2 linked regions of the Homo sapiens genome follow. The protein of the gene in region 2 interacts with the protein of the main gene of each other region in a pairwise test. Each region holds a gene or a part of one and is shown on either strand. Other genes may lie near its edges. The genes, in order: SLAMF7 and TRIB2.

Region 1 (3,349 bases), on a different chromosome or scaffold from region 2:
GACCTAAACATGAAGCAGGAAAAGAAATGGAACCATTAAGATGAAGTTAAGCTCTAAAGCTTCTTACCTTTTTCGGTATTTCCACAGTGGAGTAAACCGTATTTGCTGGATCTTCCTTTAGGATTGTTCTCTTTTAAAAACAAACAACAAACAAAAGAAATCATCACCCACCTCCTGAATCACATAGACAAGGCCAGAGAGACATTCAGAATCCAGAGAGGGGAAAGCAGAGATGGGAGGAGATGTGAGAGGAAAAGGAGGGTTCTGGAACAGGGAAGGGAGGTAGGAAGTTCTCTTGTTGGTGACTGCTATTATAATAAATTTTGATAACTTTTTTCAGGAAGCCATTACATTATTTTTAAACTGTACTGTGTTAAAATGAATTTCAAAAATATTATATATATATGTGTGTGTATATATATATATATATATATATATATATATATATATATAGAGAGAGAGAGAGAGAGAGAGAGAGAGAGAGAGAGAGAGAGAGAGATCTCTAGAGAAGTCTTCTGATACCATGATTCAAACATCCTGTCAAAGTCACACTCTTCTACCCACTGCCTTATGCAAAAGGAATCTGGCCTTTTGTGTGGCCGTTATGAACTGTGGAGGGGAGCAGGTGATTTCACAGACCACAGCATGAGCATTGTGAGTCAGAACCAGGTGCTCCAGAGACCACCAGCTTCTTCTGCACAGAAGAGAATCCATGAAGACTTGGAGGAGGCACAGGTGCATTGAGTTTTAAGTCTATATATCCTCACTCCCCTCTTCATTCCCATGTTGTCCAAACCCATGGAAAAACCTCACAAGGAGAGCCTCAGAGACAGGATCAGTTCTCAGGAAAGATGAGAAGGGACTCACATTAGTGTGAGGGATTGTGTCGTACTCTGTGTTCTCTCCAGAATGGGGGCATATGTTAGGAGTTTCCCGACAAATGTCCACTCTCTTCTTCTCTTCAATGTACTCTAAAAGCAAGTTGGGAGAGAATCAAAGCCACCTCTCCAACCACTCACCACTTCCACTGGCCCACCATTTCTCCTGGATGACCCACTTAGGGTGACCAACCAGCCGAGTTTCCTTGTAATGGAAGGGTTTTCAGGATAGAGGACTTTCAGTGTTAAAACTGGGAAAATCTAAACAAATCAGGATGAATTGGCCACCCCCAACATTTCACTTCCTGATCTCTCCATCAAGGTGGTCAAAGTGGGAAGTAGAGAAAGTCAAAGACACTTTCAGAGGGGCTTCCAGGAGGGAAGGGAGATTTCAAAGTCTGCAAGTCATACCCAACTGATGTTAGGTCCCTCCCCATCACCCACATGGACAGTGGGAGCCCAGAAGACCAATCAGCAGGGTTTAGGAACACAGGATGGGGTGCAACTGGAGAGAGACAGGGAAAGGCTTCCCCAGGAGCCATGTGTCTAGTGGGCAGTAAAGCGAGGTCTTGGGTTGATCCTGTGGAAAGGGTGTGGGTGGTTTGTGGGCTCTGACAGGGATAGGAAGGATTGACTAGAGGATGCTGGTCTGTGGGGACCTCAGAGTTGGAGGCCATCACCTCCCAGGTCAGGGGAGCAGAGTCAGCAGTGTGGGGCCTGTATCAACAGAAGAGCCACATCAGGATGTCCCTCTGGGAGAAGGAGAGAAGTGAGCCCTGGAAAGGGAACTGGGAGAACCGTGTCCTTGGGAAAGACCTCCAGCACTTTCTCTACTCCAGAACTAAGGAGCACAGGCTGACTGTATGCTTCTTGAGGGCAGAGACTGTGGCTTCTTCATCTCTGCATCTTCAACACCTCATGCCAAGTCTGGCACACAGCTCTATATGTGCTTGTTGAATCAGTGAAGGAGAAAAACATGAATGTGGGTGAGGACAAAAATAGTACACGCTCTACCTTCTTGTCTCTCTCTCTTCAGAAACCAAAGAAATAGCCCCAGTACAAAGAGACTGAGCAGGAGGGGCACCAACAGGAGACACAGGAGGACCATGGAGGAATCTGGGTCATCAGCAGCACCTTCAGAGAATGGGTGGAGGCACAGGGAAGGGAGAAAAGTCAGCTCAGGAAAACGACCCAGGTCTTGGAGCACCTGCCACCTTCCTCCCAGCCTGGTGACCACCCAGCGGCCTCCAGTTTCCATACAGTGTCTGTTCCCATGGGGGCTAGGAGCTGAAGAAGGTGTAGGACCTGGGCAGAGTCTCCTGTGGAGAGGGGAGAGGCAGTCACCTTCACAGAGCTTCCTGGCAAGGATGGGGCTTGAGAAGTTTCTGCTGACAGGGTTCCTGGCAACGCAGATGAAGGTCATATCACTTTCTCCCCATCTCCAGGAGATGGGGAGGATGGACCCATTATGGGACTCATTGGCTGCTTGCCCCAGGGCCTTCCAGGTATAAATCACATCCTCTTCCCCATGTTCCATGCAGCATGTCAGATTGGTCACACAGGTGCCATTCTTATTGCTCTGCAGACCCATGGTGACTTTAGGCTTTGACAGGTGCTCTGTGAGAGGAAGGAAAACCAGAGGTGGAAACTCTGCCTATAGCTCTCCATTCTCTGAATTATCCTTGGATACCTTGGACCTGAATCTCCCTGGGAGCTCCAGACTGGAGAGAAAGCAGTAATTCAGAGCAGAATCCTCATTCGTATCTGGAAAAGAGAACTACCTAGGTCTGCTTTACCATAGCTATATAATAATAATAACAATAACAACAATAGAAATAATAGAAATAATAATGCAATAAGAATATAACTGTCATTTACTAAGCATAGCCACATGGCAAGCACTGTGATAACGCATGTTAGATGTCCGCTAATATTATCTGTTCTAGAGGTTCCCTAGTCTCTGTCCTCAGGCTTCCCTTTACTCTCTATGAGAGTTCACTTTACTCTCTAGGAGAAAATTGTGTTGGAGTAGCCCTTCTGGCCCCCTTCTCTACTCTGTGCTCACTCCCCTGCCTCAGAGAATGAGTAGTTGGTTCATTGGTGAGATGGTAAGAGTCTGACATTCATCATTTACCTTTCTCTACTCATGGGTTTGAGACGTTAAAGGTTGCAGTTAAAATGTGTTTTGCCCTTTTTCTTCCTCCCCTGACTAGTTAGCCTGCAGAATACATATCTTCTGTTCCCTTCAACCATGTCTATATGGAAGACACACCTGGATCAGGTGCAGTGCCTACCTCCTACAAGCAAGTCTGGAGGCCCATCCCCTAAGGTTCCTGATACTGTGGCTCAGTGAGTGAAGCAGCTATTCTTCTTGAAGAAGTTTGAGTCATTGTTTCATAATTTTAACTTCCCTGGATGAGTGCCAAGGTCTAGAATTGAAAGGAAGCATTTCTCCTGTCTAGATTTACCAG
Region 2 (4,283 bases):
GGATCTGGGACTGAATCCTAGGCAGGTTTGTGGGGAGTAGGATGGTGAGAGGTGCTGGAAGGCACGGGTCCACTTCTTAACCTTCCTTTTAACTCTGTGCTGCTGGGTGGAAGCTTTATAGTCAATGTCCTCTCCATCTCTGGCCACATTCCCAGGACTCCTGATCATTAGAGTGACTGTTGTCCCAAGTGGACATAATTATAAATAGCTCCCTTCTTTTACTGAAAGTGTCCTACAGTGGACAATAATTTAGTCCCCTCCTCCAGTGGAAAATATACTACACGCATGCAAAAGCTCAGAGGGCTCCAGGAGTCGTCCCAACTCCCCTTTCTCAGTTCCTTGGGATTTTTTTTTTTAAGTTTGTCCTCTACTAGATCGCTTCTCATTCACCAGGATATCTTAGATCAAGGCTGGCGTTTGAAGCCTCTGCCTGAGTTCAAGCCCCTTGCTTCCGGTGTTCCTGTCCAAGCCCGCGGACTGGAATCTCCCAAGGAAGTTACGAATAATTCGGGGGGGGTGGCGAAATGGGGGGTGGAGTGGGGCGTGAAACTGCAGCCTTCACCTGGCTAACAGAAGAGGACTCAGGACGCCCAGCACCCTGGATAGGACCCAACAGCGCTCCCTGGAGGTGTGGGTGCAAAGTTTTGTCTAGCTTGGCCTCCAAGGCCCTCCAGGCAATGCACTGGGAAGGGAAGAATTAGTGATTAAATTTGACCTGAATCAAAAGATGCCTTCAGTTCCTCTTCTGCTGAAAACACTAGAAATACAAGCCCAGGATGTGGGGATCGGGGGCAAGCGGTGACACCAACTAAAAGGAAGCAATGGATTTCCTTTTAAATGGAGAGGAGGATGTCGGAGAGATACCATGAAACGAATTCTCGAAACTCCAGGCAGCAATACCGATGAAAGCGCATTCTTCCAAAACAGAGCTCCTCATTCAGGGCCACATCTGAGCCTGGGGGCCCAATGCTCAGAGCGTGCCTGGCTTTCTGGGGAAAAGCGCCAGGAACATGAACGAGCTACGAAGAGCTGGAGCGGGCGCTGCGGGAGCAGCGTGTGGGGAACGGCTCGGGAGTCGCTGCTGGTAACCCCGGCCCAGCCGCCCGCAGCTGGGCTCGCAGCCGGCTCGCAGCCGACACCCAGGGTGCTGCGCCCGGGGCCCCGGGCCGCGGAAGGATATTTCACTTTGTTTACCTCCCCGGCCGGGCGAGGGAGCTGCGAGGCCGGTGCTGGCGCCCCCGGCACGGAGCTGCAATGGCAGCGGCGCGGGGAGCCGCCCGAGGACTGGCAGCGGCGGGGCTGATTGATGGGCGCCCGGCGCAATGAGGGGGGCCCGGGCGGGGGCGGGGCGGGGCCGGCTCTGGGCTGAGCCAGTCGCGGGGGCGGCGGGGGGGGGGCGGAGGCTCCGTGGAAATGTGTCGGTGACATTGAATGGGGAGACCGAGCGCGAGCGAGGCGCGCGCGCGCACACGCGCACTCACGGCCCCGCTCGCTCCGAGATCCCCGGCCACGTAAGTAACTATTAATACCGCCTCGCCGGGGGATGCGGGCGTGCTGAGCGCGGGGATTGGCCTCGGGCACCGTCGGCCGTCCCCTTTAATTTTTAAATACACGGTCCCCTCTTTTCTCTGGGGGGGGCAAGCAAGAAATCAAAGAAGGAGGAGACAAGCCGTCAATTTTCTCCAAAACAAACCCCACCGGGCAATTTGGTCTCGGGGTAGGGGGAGACGGGGTGATTGCAAATTATTCCAGGACGAGATCCAGTTCTCCAGCGGGAAAGGGGCAAAGGAACGCCGCGCGTTGGAAGGGCCAGGGACGCAGCTCCCCTTGCAGCGCCCGCAGGACCCCCGCAAGCTCGTGCCGGCGAAATCGGAGACCGCCGATCTGTCCTCGTTCTCTCCTGCACGTCTGGCTGCATTCGGAGGAAGACCTGGGGCGCGAGCGAGCGGCGACAGCATGAGCCTGTGCTGACCTCCGCGCGGCGGGCCGAGCCCAGGGCTTTGTCGCGGTACCTGCGCCCAGCCCGCGCCGCAACTCTGTGCCCAGCTTTTGCAATCTTTTGTTGGCAGCGCTGACCGCACCAAGTTAAATGCTCCCTTGCAATTTTTCTTTTTTTTGTTTGTTTGTTTAATTTTTGGAGAGCTCGCGATCTTGGAAAAGCCTCAGACGCCATCTACAGTTAAAACGTAGGTAACTGCCCTCTCCCGCACCCCCCCCTTACACGCCCCCCACCCTTTCCACCAAAAAAAGGGGGTGCAGCGCGGATTCTGGCTGCCGTGCGTCGCCAGCCGGTAGACCCGTGCTTGTTTCCTTTCTCTTTTTGTTTGGCTTCTAACGCGTTGGGACTGAGTCGCCGCCGTGAGCTCCCCGAAGACTGCACAAACTACCGCGGGCTCCTCCGCCCCGTCTGCGATTCGGAAGCCGGCCTGGGGGTCGCGTCGGGAGCCCTGGCGCTGCAGCTCCGCACCTTAGCAGCCCGGGTACTCATCCAGATCCACGCCGGGGACACACACACAGAGTAACTAAAAGTGCGGCGATTCTGCACATCGCCGACTGCTTTGGGGTAACAAAAAGACCCGAGTTGCCTGCCGACCGAGGACCCCCGGGAGCCGGGCTCGGAGCAGACGAGGTATCCGGCGGCGCCCATTTGGGGGCTTCTAACTCTTTCTCCACGCAGCCCCTCTTCTGTCCCCTCCCCTCTCGCTCCCTTTTAAAATCAGTGGCACCGAGGCGCCTGCAGCCGCACTCGCCAGCGACTCATCTCTCCAGCGGGTTTTTTTTTGTTTGTCGTGTGCGATCCTCACACTCATGAACATACACAGGTCTACCCCCATCACAATAGCGAGATATGGGAGATCGCGGAACAAAACCCAGGATTTCGAAGAGTTGTCGTCTATAAGGTCCGCGGAGCCCAGCCAGAGTTTCAGCCCGAACCTCGGCTCCCCGAGCCCGCCCGAGACTCCGAACTTGTCGCATTGCGTTTCTTGTATCGGGAAATACTTATTGTTGGAACCTCTGGAGGGAGACCACGTTTTTCGTGCCGTGCATCTGCACAGCGGAGAGGAGCTGGTGTGCAAGGTAAAGGGCCAGTGGGTTGCTTTTTGTCTTTGGAAGGGGCCCGAGGGAGCGGGAGGGCGCCAGGCCCTCGAGTCTGGGAGAGGGAGATTCGCGGGATAATTACCGTGGCCTTATTAAATGGGTTTATTTATTTATTTGCTCAGGTTCGGTAAGTTGCGAAGTTTTTAGACCGTTTCAGACAATGGGGCGGGCGGCAGTGGGGGCGTTTCGGGGAGAGCCCGGGGAGGAGAGGGCGGCGGGACTGCGCGGGGGCCACGGACACGCGTGCACCGAAGGCTCCAGGAGCTCTCTGCGCGAGGCCGGGTCCCGCTGCCCGGGGGGGATTTCTTCCTGTGTCTAGCCCCCTCCCCTTCCAACAAGGATTAGGGAATCCCCCGGTAATTTTAAGACTGATGACTTCGTTCTTTTCGCAGCCATTGTTCTTAGCAGCGGGCAGGTGTTAAACCTTTGTTCCGAAGGTGCCCTTTAAAACAGACACACAAAGGTGCCCCCTTCGGCTGAGCCCAGGGGCCCAGCGCAGGGAAGGAGTTTACAAAGACCTTTCTTCTGCCTGGAGCCTTGAAAGGAGGGTTGGGGTGGAAATCAAAGCCTGAGCACTTTCTGGTGAATAGTGAATGCTTTGGGTCTTTCTCTCTGGTCTTGGTCTCTCTCCCCATCTCTAGACTTCCCTGTCTGCTCATCCCCTCTCTTCCGTGCCCCCCTGAACAACACCTTTGCCTGTAAGGTTAAGAGGCTCCCGTTTGGAGCCCTAGGGATCCGCAGTGGTAATACCACTGCGATGGACACTTCGGTTTCCTTTTTTGTCTTTAACCCTGAACAGTGACTGGTTTATGTATATGTGTGTCTGTGTATCTTTGTGTGCACCCACCGGGCCCCAGACAAGTGGATGAGGGGCGAAATAGTTGCGAAAAAGAAAATAACTATAATAGAGCATACTACTACCCAGAATTGGACCTAGATCAAGGATTCTTTGTCACTTAATTTTAGATTTGCTGACTGTTTTTTTTTTTTTTTGAGGGGGTAAGGGGAGAGTGGGGGACCCATTCTGCCTTTGAAATGGTCACTGGGCACGGTTGTGCTGCAAATAACACATCGCGCTTTTGCCATTCACCACAGACTACTTTGCGGACTTGCCTTATTTCCTAGTGGACTGGAGTATTTCATTGCAAAATTTGGGTTTAGTGGAGATCTCCAGTCAGTTTTGC

The links.
Region 1: the proteins of TRIB2 (region 2) and SLAMF7 interact in a two-hybrid assay, tested with the Homo sapiens proteins (one large-scale study listed by BioGRID and IntAct).

The regions. Positions count from the first base shown.
Region 1 is NC_000001.11:160,748,967-160,752,315, reverse strand, and holds part of SLAMF7 (SLAM family member 7 isoform a precursor), read right to left. Parts: intron 2,496-3,349; coding exon 2,223-2,495; coding exon of another isoform or gene 2,184-2,222; intron 2,013-2,183; coding exon 1,893-2,012; intron 972-1,892; coding exon 868-971; intron 131-867; coding exon 68-130; intron 1-67. UniProt on the Homo sapiens protein: Self-ligand receptor of the signaling lymphocytic activation molecule (SLAM) family.
Region 2 is NC_000002.12:12,715,500-12,719,782, forward strand, and holds the start of TRIB2 (tribbles homolog 2), read left to right. Parts: upstream 1-1,436; 5' UTR 1,437-2,808; coding exon 2,809-3,078; intron 3,079-4,283.